2 linked regions of the Homo sapiens genome follow. The protein of the gene in region 2 interacts with the protein of the main gene of each other region in a pairwise test. Each region holds a gene or a part of one and is shown on either strand. Other genes may lie near its edges.

Evidence for each region. Proteins that work in one complex are often made in the same cells at the same time.
Region 1: the proteins of MEGF6 (region 2) and CACNA1A interact in a two-hybrid assay, tested with the Homo sapiens proteins (one study listed by BioGRID and IntAct).

Annotation. Positions count from the first base shown.
Region 1 is NC_000019.10:13,209,480-13,217,263, reverse strand, and holds part of CACNA1A (voltage-dependent P/Q-type calcium channel subunit alpha-1A), read left to right. Parts: intron 1-2,655; coding exon 2,656-2,763; intron 2,764-2,930; coding exon 2,931-3,031; intron 3,032-4,523; coding exon 4,524-4,633; intron 4,634-4,741; coding exon 4,742-4,880; intron 4,881-5,047; coding exon 5,048-5,161; intron 5,162-6,611; coding exon 6,612-6,647; intron 6,648-7,765; coding exon 7,766-7,784.
Region 2 is NC_000001.11:3,600,561-3,609,127, forward strand, and holds part of MEGF6 (multiple epidermal growth factor-like domains protein 6 isoform 1 precursor), read right to left. Parts: intron 2,041-8,567; coding exon 1,906-2,040; intron 1-1,905.

The DNA of each region.
Region 1 (7,784 bases), on a different chromosome or scaffold from region 2:
TCTCTCTGTCTCTGTCTCTCTCTCTCTCTTCCCTGTCCATCTGTTTCTCTCTCCCACCCACCCCTCTGTTCTCTCTGCCCAGAAGAATCTCTATTTTGGTTTTGGTTTTGTTTGTTTTGTATTGTTTTGAGACGGAGTCTCGTTCTGTCGCCCAGGCTGGAGTGCAGTGGCGCAGTCTCAACTCACCACTGCAGCCTCCACCTCCCAGGTTCAAGCGATTCTCATGCCTCAGCCTCCCGAGTAGTTGGGATTACAGGCGCACGCCACCACGCCCAGCTAATTTTTGCATTTTTACTAGAGACTGGTTTCACCATGTTGACCAGGCTGGACCCTATCCTCTTTCAAGCCCCCCACCCCAGGCATTGAGGGCAGAGCCAACTACCTGCCTGAACCAATTAGCATATTAAACGTAAACCCAGTTAGCATATCCAAATAGCAGCCCACAGTGACATTCTGACTGTCAGAATGTGGATTGCTTGAGCCCAGGAGCTCAAGGCTTCGGTGAACAAAGATTGTGCCACAGCCTGGGCAACAGAGTAAGTCCCTGTCGATCGATAGATAGATGATAGATAGATAGATAGATAGATAGATAGATAGATAGATAGATAGATAGATAAATTTTTAAAAAAAATAATAGGCCAGGCACAGTGGCTCATGCCTGTAATCCCAGCACTTTGGGAGGCCGAGGCAGGCAGATCACCTGAGGTCAGGAGTTCGAGACCAGCCTGGCCAACATGGTGAAACCCTGTCTCTACAAAAATATAAAAATAGCCAGGCAGATGTCTGTAATCCCAGCTACTCAGGAGGCTGAGGTAGGAGAATCGCTTGAACTCTGAAGGTGGAGGTTGCAGTGAGCCGAGATCATGCCATTGCACTCCAGCCTGAGTGACAGAGCGAGACTCCATCTCAAAAATAATAACAATAATAAAAATAATAATAAATGCTCTGGCCCCAAAGTGGCACATTACATGGTGCACACCCCATTAGCAAGGACTCATCACATGGCCCTGCCAACCACAGGAGGAACCCCCCCATGTACTCAGGTAGGAGGGCCAGGAAACACCGTCAGAGAGCTTTAATGACTCACCCCATGACTGGGGTGAGGGACGAGGGACTGGCTGCAGGCCAAGGGCATGTCCGTGGCAGTGGAGACTTGGGAAAGGGGAAAAGACCTCCTCTGAGCCACGCACAGTGGCTTTCATCTGTAATTCCAGCACTTTGGGAGGCTGAGGTGGGAGGATCTTGAGCCCAGGAGGTCGAGACTGCAGTGAGCTATGTTTGTGCCACGGCACTCTAGCCTGGGCGACAGAGCAAAACCCTGTCTCAAAAATCAAAATAAAACCAAAACCAAAACTTCCTCTGTTGGGGATGCTCCAGGGCGTCCCAGCCTTGAACAGATGGGTCACTGCAGTAATAATCCTATGGCAGACACTGTCCCAAGGCTGCACGCACGTTACTTTGATCATCAAACAACCAGGTGATAGCCAGGCATGGTGGTGCGTGCCTGTAGTCCCAGCTACTCAGGAAGCTGAAGCGGGAGAATCTCTTGAACCTGGGAGGCGGAGGTAACAGTGAGTCGAGATCACATGACTGCACTTCAGCCTGGGAACAGAGAGAGACTCTGTCAAAAAAAAAAAAAAAACAGGCCAGACGCGGTGGCTCACGCATGTAATCGCCAGCACTTTGGGAGGCTGAGGAGGGTGGATCACCTGAGGTCAGGAGTTTGAGACCAGCCTGGCCAACATGGTGAAACCCCGTCTCTACTAAAAATACAAAATTAGTTGGGCGTGGTGGTGCACACCTGTAATCCCAGCTACTCGGGAGGCTGAGGCAGGAGAATCGCTTGAACCCAGGAGGCAGAGGTTGCAGTGAGCTGAGATTGCACCATTGCACTCCAGCCTGGGCAACAAGAGTGAAACTCCATCTCAAAAAAAAAACAAAAAAAAAACAACCAGCCAGGCGCGGTGGCTTACGCCTGTAATCCCAGCACTTTGGGAGGCCGAGGCGTGTGGATCACCCGAGGTTAGGAGTTCGAGACCAGCTTGACCAACATGGTGAAACTCCGTCTCTACTAAAAATACAAAAAATTAGCCAGGCATGGTGGTGCATGTCTGTAATCCCAGCTACTCGGGAAGCTGAGACAGGAGAATTGCTTGAACCCAGGAGTCGGAGGTTGCAGTGAGCCAAGCTCGTGCCACTGCACTCCAGCCTGGGCAACAGAGCAAGACTCTGTCTAAAAAAAAAAAAAAAACACACACACACACACACAACAACCAGGTGAGGCAAGTACTCTTGCTATCATCTCCATTTCACAGATGGAGAAACTGAGTTACTAAGTGGTAGAGTAACCTAAGTCATGCAGCCGATAACTGGGAGACAAGATTGGGACCCAGGTCGCCCAGCTGTTCTCCATGCCGGGCTGTCTCCTGCACAGCTGCTCCATGGTCCTGGCCCCACCGAAAACCAGAGCCCACAAGGTCATTCCAGCAGCACTGCCCAGGGCCTCCTCTGGGCCAGGCCGTTGGGGAACTGGAGACCCCATGGGGACCAGAAAGATTGGGGTCTCGTTCTCGGGAGCCTATGGCTTTGCAGCTGACCCAGAGTCCAGCTGACACCCAGGCAGGCAGTCAGGGTCTGTCTACACCCCCATTGCAGGAGGAGCCGACAAACAGCAGATGGACGCTGAGCTGCGGAAGGAGATGATGGCGATTTGGCCCAATCTGTCCCAGAAGACGCTAGACCTGCTGGTCACACCTCACAAGTGTAAGAGCTGAGCCCAGCCCTGGGATCCAATCCACCAGGACAGATGGAGGGGGAGGGAAAGGGGAGGCCTGGGGAGAGTGTTGGCCTGGGCTGGTATACACAGGGACCCAGGACAAGGGCCCCAAAGAGGCCTGCCCTTGGTGAGCTCACCGTGTGTGTGCCCCCAGCCACGGACCTCACCGTGGGGAAGATCTACGCAGCCATGATGATCATGGAGTACTACCGGCAGAGCAAGGCCAAGAAGCTGCAGGCCATGCGCGAGGAGCAGGTGCGCTGTTCGCCGCTCTGGGGACATCTGGGCTGGGGACAGTGGCTTGCATGTCACCACGGGAACCAACTGGAATATGAGGGTGGCTGAGCCCCAGGGCAGGTCCCTGAAAAGTAGGGGCTGTGCACAGCAGCTCACACCTGCAATCTCAGTGCTTTGAGAGGCCAGGGCAGAGGGATCGTTTGAGACCAGGATGAGACCACCCTGGGCAACACAGTGAGACTCCATCTCTACAAAATAAAACATTAGCCAGGCATGGTGGTGCACACCTGTAGTCCCAGCTATTTAGGAGGCCAAGATGGGAGGATCACTTGAGGCCAGGAGTGGGAGACCAGTCTGGGCAACATAGAAAGACCCATATCTCTACAAAAAAAAAATAAAATTAGCTGCATGTGGCGCCATGCACCTGTGGTCCCAGCTACTTGGGAGGCTGAGGCAGGAGAATCACTTGAACCTGGGAGGTGGAGGTTGCAGCAAGCCAAGATCAAGCCACTGCACTCCAGCCCGGGTGATAAGAGCAGGACTCTATCTCAAAAAAAAAAAAAAAAAAAAAAAAAAAAGTTCTTGCCAAGGACACATCATGTGGATTCATTCTTCATTCAGCTGCTCCACCAACACTTATTGAGTATTACTGTGTGCAGGGCGCTGTTCTCAGTCCTCGGGGATGCACCCATGGGGAAAATAGGCCAGAATCCCTGCCCTCAGGGAGCAGACATTCCAAGTGGGGAAATGCCAATGGTAGCAAATGACTGAATCGTGCAACATCCAGCAAAGAGAAAGAAAGTGTCGTGGGGGAAAGTGGAGAAGAATCCAGAAGATAGGAGTATCCAGGGGAGGAGGGGATGCGGTGGGAAATGGGTAGTTGGGGAGCCTCCCTGAGAAAGTGACATGTGAGCAAAGGCTTGAAGGAAAAGGGGAGAGGGAGTGAGCTAAGCAATACCTGGAAGGGTGTTCCAGGCAGAGGAAACAGCCAGTGCAAAGGCTCTGAGGCTGGACCGTGCCTGGGTTGTTTGGGTAACAGCAAAGAGGCCAGTGTGGTGGAAAAGAGCAGGGAGGAGACAAGGGCAAGGAGGTGACAGGGCAGATCCTTCAGGGCCATGGGAGCTGCAGGAAGGACTCTGGCTTTTTCCCCAAGCAAGTGGGAGCCATGGAGGGTTCTAAGCAAAGGAGGGATAGGACCTGACTCAAGTGCTCATGGGCGCCCTCTGGTGGCTCTTGTGGAACAGTGGGGTTGAAGGTAGGAGCGGGAGACCTGGGAGAAGGTGCCTGCAGTGAGAGATGAGGACGTGGGACCAGGCTGGGGCTATGACTTGGGTGGAGGAGTGAGAAGTGGTCCAGTTCTGCGTGGAATTGGAAGGGTCTAGATGGATGAGACCTGAGAGAGTGTGTGTGTGTGTGTGTGTGTATACTGGGGATGTCGCAATGCCTTCTGGGTACCACCGTCCCACCACCCCACCCTTGTCCACACACTGCTCTCTGCCCCATTCCCCAGGACCGGACACCCCTCATGTTCCAGCGCATGGAGCCCCCGTCCCCAACGCAGGAAGGGGGACCTGGCCAGAACGCCCTCCCCTCCACCCAGCTGGACCCAGGAGGAGCCCTGTGAGTGTCACCCCTGCCAGGGAGGTGGAGTGTGGGGGTGCCGTGGTCCCCACGTTCTGGAAGCTGCCCAAGCGCCCACTGCTACCCCGGCCTCTGTCCCCCATGCAGGATGGCTCACGAAAGCGGCCTCAAGGAGAGCCCGTCCTGGGTGACCCAGCGTGCCCAGGAGATGTTCCAGAAGACGGGCACATGGAGTCCGGAACAAGGCCCCCCTACCGACATGCCCAACAGCCAGCCTAACTCTCAGGTGCCTCTGTCCCCCAACTCCCCAATGGCTCCCAGGGCCCGGGTGGTTCAGGTGGAAGGGATCTGGGCCCCCCACACACACACACCTGCAGCTCCCTCCCTCTGCAGACACCAGGGATCTGGAGGTCAGGCCCCAGAGCTCATCTGGCTTTGCCATCTGCTCCGCAGTCCGTGGAGATGCGAGAGATGGGCAGAGATGGCTACTCCGACAGCGAGCACTACCTCCCCATGGAAGGCCAGGGCCGGGCTGCCTCCATGCCCCGCCTCCCTGCAGAGAACCAGGTGAGGGCTTTCACCACTGCCCTGGGGCTGGACCCCTCACTCTGCACTGGGTAGGGCCAGGCCCCCCCACAAGCAGCCCAGTGCATCCCCTCCCTGCCGGACTCAGGCCTGGGTAGGGACTCCTTCAGTCTCTGAAGCAGTCTGCAGGCCCCACCCACCACCTGGTCACACCTGGAGCACCTGCAGACCCTCCTCCCTCACAGAGGACAGAGAGGAAAGTGCTCCCCCTGGGGCAGAGGGCAGTGGCCACTGCAAAATGGTCTCTGGCTGCCCTGGTTGGAGGCTGCAGACAGGGGAGGTTGTGGAAGATTTGTGGGTGCAGCAGGGTTCAACAGGGCCAGCTGAGACCTGCCACGAAGATCACCCCTACACAAACACACACACACATGCTCAACATACATGCACACACATGTGCAGCTGTGCGCCTACTCAGATGCTTGCATACACACACGTGTGTGCACGTGGGCATATACACACTGCACATGTACTCACACATGCACACATGTACGTGCACACGTGTCTGCATATGGGAACTTGGCAGGTCCTAGGATACAGTAGCAGAGTCTGGGGTGGGTCTGGGGGCAGCTGGGCTCGTATTTTCTGTCTGGTCTCTGTGGGAGTCATTGGGGGGCACAGGGGTGTGTGCTTGATGTGTGTCTGTGTGTGGCCGCTTCACCCAGCTGCCAGGCCCACCTGCAGGTGATCCCGTTGCCTTGGACTCATGGGACAGAGGGCCCAGAGGCATAGCTGGCTGCCCACCCGGCCTGAACAGCGGGGGCCCATGCACGCAGCCCGCCTCTGGAGGAGAACAGGGCATGGCTGTGAGAGCCTGGCCCGGGTGCGTGGCATGTGTGGCTGTGGCGAGCTTTCCGTGTGCCGTGTGTGGCGTCTGCACGGGGCAGGAGGCTGTGCTGTGCCTGGCTGGACCAGGGTCACCTGAGGGCCTGGCCTCTGGCTGCTGGGAACGTGGGTTGGGGAGCACCCAGCGTGCATGCTGCTGCTCCCTCAGGACCGAGCTGCTGGGCCCCAGGAGAGGGTTGGGACAAGCCCAGCTGACGGCCACCACATGGAAGCTTTGAGCATCGGCCGGAGCCAGGGGTTGGGGTGTGCATCGCATGAGGCAGAGCCCAGGGCCAGGGGCTCGAGGCTGCGCCGTCCTGTCTTTCGGTCCCATGCCTCTGCCATTTGTCTGTCTGCATCTCCTGTCTGTCTCCTCTGTACCCATGGGAATAGAGGACGCCCAGCCCCGGGGGCCTGGGACACCCACCCGCCAGGACTTTAACTTTTCTTTTCCTCCCTGCCTTCTCCCTCCGATTTCTCTTGATGCCAGTGCCACTCCCCTCCTTGGCTTCTTCTCCATGCACCACCTCCTCACTCTCCCTCTTGCCTTTTATATTTATTTTCTTCTTTCTGTTTTTTCTGTGTGCACCATCCCATGGGGCTGTGACAGAGGAGAAGGGGCCGGCCACGTGGGAATAACCTCAGTGTATGTACCGCGCCTGCCCAGCGCCCAGCAGGGCTCCGGCCCCCTCTTCCTCCCCACCCCCCCTCCAGGGAGTCCCGTCATCTCTCACCGTCCCCGGACCCCACCCTTTCTTTGGCAATCGCACCCTCTCCCCTCCATGGAGCCCAATCCTTGTGTGTGGTGTCCTGTGTGTGCCCCTCACCCATAAGCCCTGGTGGGCGGGGCCATCCCCATCCTCACCCCTACCCCCTTTTCTTCAGGGCCCCCCACGCCGGAGGACACTGGCTCTCCAAGAGCCTGGCCCACTCTGCACCTCTTTCTGGGGGGCTTCTTCTCCTGACACCACCACCAACCCCTGGTCCTGCAGCTCCTACCTGGAGCAGGGCCACCAGCGCTCAGCTGGGCTGGACCCTGGGAGGCGGGCGTCTGCCCCATCTCCCTCCTTCCCTCCTCTGCCTGCTGCAGAGAAACCTGTGTGTCAGGGCTTGACCCAGGGATGAAGCACCAGGGAAAAGAGTGGGCCCCCAGAGCCTCCAGTGCCTGGGTATCCCCCACCCCCACCCAGAGCTCCCTAGCTTGGGCCTCACCAGAAGGACTCAGACTTGTGGGGGCAGCGAGCACAGCCCCGTTAGCCGGGAGGACCCAAAGCTGCCATGCCGGGCACCTGGTCCTGAGCCCATAGGTCAGCCAGCCACAGTCGGAGGCTTCTCACCCTCCCAGGAGAGCAAGCTGGGGCAGGGATGAGTGCGGCAGTCCAGGGCTCCCAGGTTTGCACCCTGGATGTGGAGAGGGCTTCCCTCTGGCCAGCCTGAGCCTGCCCAACTGTGGCTGGGCCCCCAGGACTGGAGAGTGAGGATCAGATCTTTCTGGTCAGAACCCAGGATGGGCTCAAAAGGAGCAGTCCTGTCTCTGAGGGACAGAGGAATCCTCAGGCTCCACCCTCAGAGGCCTGGCCACACCCAGAGCCCTGATTGATCAGGGGGAGCCAAGGCCCCATGGCATCCCCTGGCCCCTGCCCCAGGATGGTCACACCGCAGTCACCGAAGGCCACCACCAGGCTGCCACAATGGGGCAGGAAGGACCGGGACCACTTGGTGCTAGCTGCTGACCCCAGCCCACCGGCCTGTCCCCTCCCCCAGACCATCTCAGACACCAGCC
Region 2 (8,567 bases):
GGTGCTCCAGGCACCACCCAAAGTCTTGCCGCGTGGAGTGATATCTGGACCTGGCATCTGAGGAGACTCCCCCGAGGCTGCACAGCTGGATTCAGCCTCCAGCAGCTTGGGAGGGGACACAAATTGGAAACGTGGGATTTGGGAGCACCCTGTGCCCACGAACAGCCCCAGAAGCATCCCAAAGGGACAGGGGCCCAGGCCACATGTCACCACCTCACTTGGGGCTGGTTCCAGTAGAGCACACAGGACGCCCATCCCCCCGGCACCAGGGTGGTAAGAAGCCTCTGGTTCCCCCAGGAGCGGGGGCCAGGTGAGAACAGCCCAGGGTCCTCGGAGGTGGACCTCGGCCCCTCCCCCATGACAAGCCCAGGACCTTGAGGCAGAATGGCCACCTTTCGGGAGGGAGGGTTGGTGAAGAGGCCCGGACACCCTGCATTGGGTAATGCCGGGAGGGGATCCCCTGCCAGTGCCCCCCCCTCCAAGCAGGGGGACTTTGTCCACGGCTGCCCCCAGTGCCCTGCCAGGAGGCTGAGGACCCCGGCACATCGGCAATGCTGCTCCCACCCTGCCTTCAGGCTAGCCTAGAGACCACAATGGAGAAATCATGCCCCCATAGCGAGGGGACTTCCTCAGCCCGGCCACCAGCACTCTCTCCAGCCCTGGGCTCAGATGGCTTCTGGCTGCTTCTAGAAACAGAGCTCTTCCACCACGAGCTGTTGGCGGGAGACCTGGCTGATGCAAACAAATTCCCGCAGGGAAATCCACCTGCATCCATGCACGCATGACATCCACAGGGCAGGCCCGCATCCACGCATGGGTGACAGTCAGGACAGACTGCAAGCTGCTATTTTGGGGAAAACAATGAGAGGAGATTTCTTCTTTTTGCTCAGGGTCCCTGAACCTCAGCCCTCCTGAGATCTCTTGTTTTGGGGGCTCAGGATCCCTGAACCTCAGCCCTCCTGGTACTGGGCCGGGTCGTCTGTTCGGGGGGTCGTCCTGTGTGCTGAGATGCTCAGCAGCATCCCTGGCCCCCTCAGCCTGCCCAGCTCACCTGTCACCAAACCTGACTCCACATCTCCACTGTCCCGGGGTAGGAAGACAGAACTGCCCCTGAGTGAGAACCACCATTATTGCTTAACGGTTTTTTTCTCCTCTACTCTGAACACATCTGAATTGCGCAGCAAACACACATTGACCAGAAAGCTGCCAGAGCCCCCTGGAGCAGGTACAGCAGGTGCAGGTGTCCCGCGTGGACCCCATGCCCAAGGGAGCAGCGCAGAGCAGGGCCTCGGCTCCTCCGCAGATCCCAGGCTGAGAAGCTAGCCACGATCTTCTCTGAGAATGCGTTCCTGCCTTCCCTCCCACAGACACACGGAAACTCTCCACCTGACACGGGGGCTGCCAGCTCCCGGCACAACCCGCTTTGCGGCAGGGCTGGCTCTGCAGAGCCTGAGTCTATAAAAGGGGGAGAGGTGTGCACAGGCACTCAAGTTCGGTGTTGAAATAAAATCTTGCGCAGTAAAAAGTTTCACGTGTGTTGGGGAACAAGGCCCTAGGGCCAAGAAGCAGCAGCCTCCCACCGGGCCCCTGGCAGGCTGAGACCACTCTCCCCTTCCTGCGTGGCCAGCATCCTCCCGGGCTGGGCCCCTCCTCCTCCACACACCCCTCACAAAGGACTCAGGTGCTCGGCTAAACAGGAGAGGGCTACAGCATGTGAGTAGCCCCATGGCAGACCCACCCTGAGGGTGGGAGAGGCCTCATGCTCAGATGAGGGCTTCAGGCAGGGGTTGCGTGTGGCCCTGAGACCAGGACGGGGTCCTGGCCTCAGCTGCCCAGCTCCCGGGTGGTCAGTGCCGCCCTTTGTGTGAATGGAGCCCCTCCCCCAACACGGGCCCCTGCACTTACCTCCGCTCATGACCCACGCACCACGCCTGCCACCCACAGCCGGCCTTCCACACCGGCACCGTGTGGCTTAAGGCCTGCACGCACGGCTGGCGGCGGCCCACCAGGGTCAGCTCCTGCTCAGCACACACGTGGGGCCTGGAACAGAGACACGGAGAGTCAGCGCCTCGGCCACCCCCAGCCGGCAACACCCACCCCTCCTGCACCCCCAGCCTTGGGTGTCAGCTCATCTGGAGTGAGGTCCAGACCCGTGGCCAGGCCTCCACGGCACAGTGCCCATGCCAGTGCCCCAGGCCAGCCGTGGGACCCAGGCTTGAGGGCACAGGAGCTCAGGGGAAAAGGCAAGATGACCGCAACATCCCCCACGCATGGCCCACAGCGTGGATCCTAGTGCCCTAAGACCTTGCAACACAGCCACCAACGACGCTGCCTCAACAGACAGGAACTGTGGCCTCAAGGCACAGTCACACCTCGTCCAGAATCCAGGACCAAGCGCGGGCCCATTCTGTCCTCTCCACCCCAGCCCTCCCCACCTCGCTTCAGAGATGTCCCCAGGCCTGATGTTGCTGGGGCACATGGCTGGGGTGAACCCGGGCCCATCCCCTGTGAAGTCAGCGGCTCCCCGGCATCCTATGACCCACACTGGTGAGTGTTTGCTCTTGGAGGAGGAGGTGAAAACCCCAGCCCCATCCCTGCCAAACTCCTTCAGGTCCCTCCAAGGCCTCTCCAGCCCAGAGGCTGCATAAACCAGGGGAGGGGGCATGCCAGGGACAGGCACCTTAAGCCAGCCATCCAGACCCCACCGGGCTCGGAGCAGGTGGAGAAAGGACTCAGGCCCTGCGGGGGGAAGGGTCAGAGGGAGGGACCCTCCAAAGACAGCCACACGGGCCAGCACCCCCAGAGCAGGGGCTCGCCCCTGGCCTGCCCTGACCGAGGGGTGAGGCGGGCTCCCTCCACAGAGGCAAATTCGGGGGGAGAGGACAAGGCTCCAGTGCTCGTGTCCCACTACGTCAGGTGACGTCTGGGGGGCCTCAGAGGAAAGAAGAGGCTTGTCCTGCTCTCCCAGCTCTGGACTTGCTCCCCAGAACCAGGGCCAGGCATACCTGGTGCGGGCCGGTGTCTCCCCTCCAGCCTCAGGTGCAGCAAGCCTGGCAGATCCCACCAGAGCCCCTCCCACCTCCTGGGGGCAAGCAGGTGGCATGGGTTCCCCCAGCCTCCTCATCAGAGGTCCCCACCCCACCGGGAATATTGTCCAGGCTCGGTACCGCCCTCCGCCCAGGCCTTGCCAGGAGCTCCTAACCAGCCGCCGCCCCGTGGGCCGGACCCTGGCTCAGCACTCAGAGACTGCCCGCCCCGTCCAGCCACCCTGGCCCCAGGCCAGCCGCCCCCAGATGGAGGCTCTTGCAATGGAGGACTTATTTTTCCTCTTTCCTGGGGCTCGTGCTGTGTGGGAAGCCCTGTGTCCCCTCTGACTTCAGCCCACCCCCTTGTGCTGAACAAATCCAGAAAGCACAGACCCAACATAGCGATGGCAAAAACTGAGAGGGGCAAATGGCAGGGCCTCACCAGCCGGGACAGCAGGGGCTCCACCAGGCTGCTGTGGCACCCAGAGGAGGGACCCTGGCCTCCAGCTGCCCACCCACGAAGGGGCAGACGAAGGCTGGGACCAGAGTCCAGCTCCAGGTCTCCAGTCAAGTCCGAGAGGGGCTGGGGCTGCTGCTGGACATGTCCTGCCCATGACCTCCTGCCGAGAGGTTCTGCCCACACTCTCCCGCAGTTTCCCAAACGTCCCATCCCAGGGCTGAGGCTTGCCCACCCGAGGTAGCGTTGATTCCTGGAGTCCAGGCCCAGGTGACTGCAGGGTGGGGCACAAGGCAGGGCACGAGGCAGGGCAGAGCTCCTCCTGGCCATAAGCAGGGTCCAGGTTCCCCACCAACTCCCAGACAGACCGGCAGCTGCAGCCGAGAAGCCTCCGCAGCAATGGGGACCCTCCAGCTAGGCGGGATCAGCTGCACGAACCCAGGGCAGGTGGAAAGGCTCTGCCATTGCCTCTTCCTGCACCAGGAAGACAACTCTCACCTGGGTGGAGAGCGAGACTTCCAAAATCCCCGACTATTTCTACCTGGGAGCTGGGGAAGAGGTGACTCGTTCAGGAGTGCCTCCTCCGTGCCCAGCACCAGGTCCTTTCCTGACATTACATCATCGAATCTCTCCCCTCCCAGGGAGGAAGTGACAGTGACCCCCTGATCTGCTCAAGATCACCAGCTAATGGTGATGACTAAGGGCCAGGTCTCTCCCACCTTCCCCCAGCACTGTTGGGCCTCTGTGTCCTAAGGGCCACGGATCCCAGAGTGAGAATAGGGGAGGGGGCAGGACCAGAGGTTGGATCAGGGACAGAGGGTCACGTCTCCAGGGAGAGCCCTCCTCAGCCTCCCTGGGGCTGGGTCCTGACCTCATTCCTGACCCCCAGACTACAGCACCCATGGGGGATGGTCTCACAGCCCCCAGGGCCACTGCCCCACCCCACCCTGCTGTGACCCAAGGCTGACCTCTGTGGATCACATCCTCCCAGCACCTGCACACACACAAACACACACCCTCACACTCACACTCTCAGTCACACACAAACTCACACTCAATCACACACATTCACAACCACTCATACACACACCCACACACAGTCACACACTCACAGTCACATACACCCTTACTCATACTCAGTCACACACACCCACACACACAGTCACACACACTTTACATGGACTCGAACACAATCACACTAACAGAAGGCACTCACACATACTCTCACACCCACACAATCACACAAACGCAATCACACACATTCACATTCATATGCATGCTTACACACTCAACATGCTCATACACTCACGCACGTTCACACACACTCAATCACACTCACTACCATACCCACAATTACATACACACAACTCACAATCACTTTCACACTCAAAATCACACACCCTCATACACACATATGCTTACCTATACACACATATACACAATTACACACATACACACACAATCACACACATACACATTCACACTCACACACAATCACACATATTCTCATACACTCATACACTCACATACACACACATACACTCATACAATGACACACACACAATCACATACATACTCATGCACACGCACACTTCTGTACTCTCACGCATGCAAGCTCACAAACTCACACACACTCGCACACACATATGCACTCTCAAACTCCCATTCACACACACTCACAGATACACACACAGGCACACACACTCACTTACACACTTTGCCTTCTGGCTGCCAGGTGGGTTTAGTCAATGGGAGGACCAGGAAGAGATGTGGAAGAGGCACTGGGGTGTGGCCCTCCTGTCAGGGGCGGAGGCCGTGCCCACTCTCTCCAGGTTCCAGGACCCGGCCCCCACCCAAGGGATGGCCTTGGCTCCACGGTGGCACCCCCGTGCTTCCTGCGCCCCTTCATGAAGATCCCTCCCCAACCCCTCCCGGGACAGTGCCACCCTGTCCTCCTCCTACTGACAGATACTCTGTCCCCCTGAAACTTCAAAAATTCACACTTTCATGTAACAGTGTCAAATTTGGGATCAGAGACAGGTGTTTTAAAGAACTAGCACATCTTGGAGGGCAGAACTCGTGATGAACGCACCCACCCCACCAACCATCGGGCTCTAGGGCTGCAAAGCGTCATGCAGTGGTTCTCAAAGTGGGGTCCCCCGGCCAGGACCAGCAGCCTCTCCTGGGAACCTGCAGAAATGCACACTCCTGGGCCCCACCCTGGACCACTGAATCCAGGACTCTGGGGGTGGGGCCCAGCATTCCTCGGGGTGGGAAGGATTGCGTGTGTTTGCCCAAGCCCACCAGGGGATGCTGGAGCACACTCAAGCTTGTAACCCCAGGCCTAGCGGTTTGAAGCAAGGTCTCACCGCCAAGCAGCCTGGGTTTGAATCTCAGCTCCCCACGCCCCATCTTTAAGACGCGCAGGTTACTGAACCTCTGCCTCAGTTTCCTCACCTGTAAAATGAGGACTCACAGCAGTGACCTTGCCAGGTTTGCATGAGGGTTAGATGAGCCTGCACAGAAAAGGGCTCCCGACAGCCCTCAGGAGGTGTGAGCTAGTGTTACTGCAGATACTGGGACTGTTTATTCCGGAAAAAGTGTCACTTGTACCTGGAAAGTGGGCCATAGGAACTGCTACAGGCATTGAACGCTTTTGCCGTCCCTGTGCCTTGCAACGCACTTACCCACGGCGAGCCCTGGGCACAGGTGACCTTGAACTCCTTGCCATAAAAAAACGGAAGCCGGGGGGAATAGGCCAATGATCCCTGAGCTTCTGGGCTACAGGGTCCAGCCCCTGACTCTGTGATGGCCCCTGTGCTGAGGGCAGCCACTGTGAAGGGACTCTGTCACCATCTCAGGATGGAGATGACACAGAGAGGGCAGAGCTGTGAGCTTGGGTTTTCAACAGACACCCCAGGCCTGGGGCCTGCTGTGCAGCCTGGAGTCACTGACCATCTCTGAGCCCTCAATTCAGCATCTGGAAAGCAGGCGTGATGACAGCTTGGGCCTCCGGGGCTTGGAGACATCAGGGACACGGCCGGGGTTAGGGGTACTGAGGGGTTGGGTGCTCCCCTCAGAAGGGCCTTCTTGTCCTTCCCGGCCCTCCTCAAACCTCAGCAATCTCAGCTGCCACTAACCAGCAAGACGACAATGCTGAAGGACTCACCGAGACCCCTTGCCAACCCCACCCTGGACCACCCAGCAGCCCTTCCCGCACATCACACCCGTCACTCTCCCGGCCCCTGCCCGCCTGGTGCGCCCTATGTCTCCCCAATAACTCCTCCCCTTCACGGCTCTCCCCAAGGACGGAGGGCCCTTGCCCTGCCCAGCCAGGCTGTGGTCCCTGAAAGCAGCTCCTGGATGGCTCTTGCAGTGACCCCCAACAAAATTGATTGATCATCAATCAAGCCAGCCTTCAAGGAGGGGGTGAGTGTGGGAACGACTGTCTCCTCTGGGGACTTCAGCACTGCACACACGGCCACAGCACCGCACCCGCACGGCCCCGGCGGCCTTTCCACCTGTGAGGATGGAGAAGGTGGCAGGGGAAGGGCAGGCAGAAGAATGGACAAAAAGAAACCTCCCACTGCTGCACATGGGTCTGAGGAGAACCCAATAAAGCACCTGGTGACCTTTGACAGGACCAGAGTCCCAGGCCTTTCTGTTCCTTGCGGCTGGATCCCGCCTCCCATCTGGGGGCGTGGAACAGGAATTCCCAAACTACAAAGTGGACCTGGTGCAGTCGGAGGCGGAATGCTCCCAGCTGGTGGGCCATCTGCTCCCGAGCAGAGCCGGGGCTCCACGGGCAAGAGATGGGCGGGCATGCTGCGGGGTCCCTCCAGGGCAGGCAGCGACAGTCTGGGCCCAGCGACGGCATCACCAGGTTGGGGAGGGCGGGGATCCAGAAAGCAGGCAGCCAGCCTGGCTCAGCTCCCCAGCCTGGCTGAATGCAGCCCCTGAACAAACCCCTGTGGGCGGCGGGGGTGAGGGGAGTTGGGGGGGCTCGCTCAGGACAGCGGCCCTGGAGGGCGGGGCTCGCTCAGGCCAACGGCCTCGCGCTTATTTTTAAAGGCTCGTTTTTACCCCCATGGTTCTCCTCTGCTTATGCTTCCCAGGGCCCCATGCAGCCAGCATGCGGGGAATCTCAAGGCCCTGGGGTTGGGGGAGCCCAGCTCCTGCCCTGGGGCCCCTCGGACTCTCAGGTACCTTCCTGTAGACAAGGAGACAATGAACAATGTCACTCAAAGCCCCAAAGGCAGCAGCTCACAGAAGTGAGAGCTCCTTCCCCTCCAGGTCACGTGCTGTGAAACTCATGGCCCTAAGGGGAGGCTGAGAACAGCTGCCTTCTACACCCTGGGGTCGGGGAGCAGGCCTGCTGACAACCTGCAGGCCTCAGGCTCACGAATGGGGCCCTTGGAGCCCATGGCCCCAGTGGATCCAAAGAGCTACTTGCAAGATTGGACTTGAGCTTGCAGGGCCCGACCCGCCCTGGAGGGAAGGCATCATATCATTAGCTGATTCCAGAACACTGGCCATTTTTGTAGCACAGCTGCCCAGAGGGGACTCCATCAGAGAGAACCTGAGCCCCGCGAAGCAGACACTCCTCTCTGTAGCCCAGCAGCACCTCTCAGGGTCTCCAAAATGTGGAGCTTCCAACCATGGCTGGTCCGAGCCCTGCGGGTCCATGCCTTAGCAGGTGGGCAATCGGCCCCCGTCTCCCAGACCCCGTTCCCAGATGCCCAGCCAGCAGCCTAGGCCTCCTGCATGAGGCCCCAGGAAGGAGGCCAGCCATCCTTCCTCATAGTGGAAATTCACTTTGGAGTGACCTGAATCAGCAGATAGATCAGTTCTGCCCGCTCCAGGGATGGGGCAAAGCACCTGGATCTGCGAGTTGGAGGGCACACCCCTCGCTGCCTCCGACAGCGTCTCCTAGAGGCCCCGGCTTCTAGCATTAACAGGAGGTTGGCAGTAACGCTTCAACTCAGCAGCCAGTGGTTCAGGAACACTCAGCCAGCGGGGGTGCCGCTGCCCCGTGCCAAGCCCTGCCTGCTCATCAGATTCCCAGGAGGAAAGGGTAATGGGGA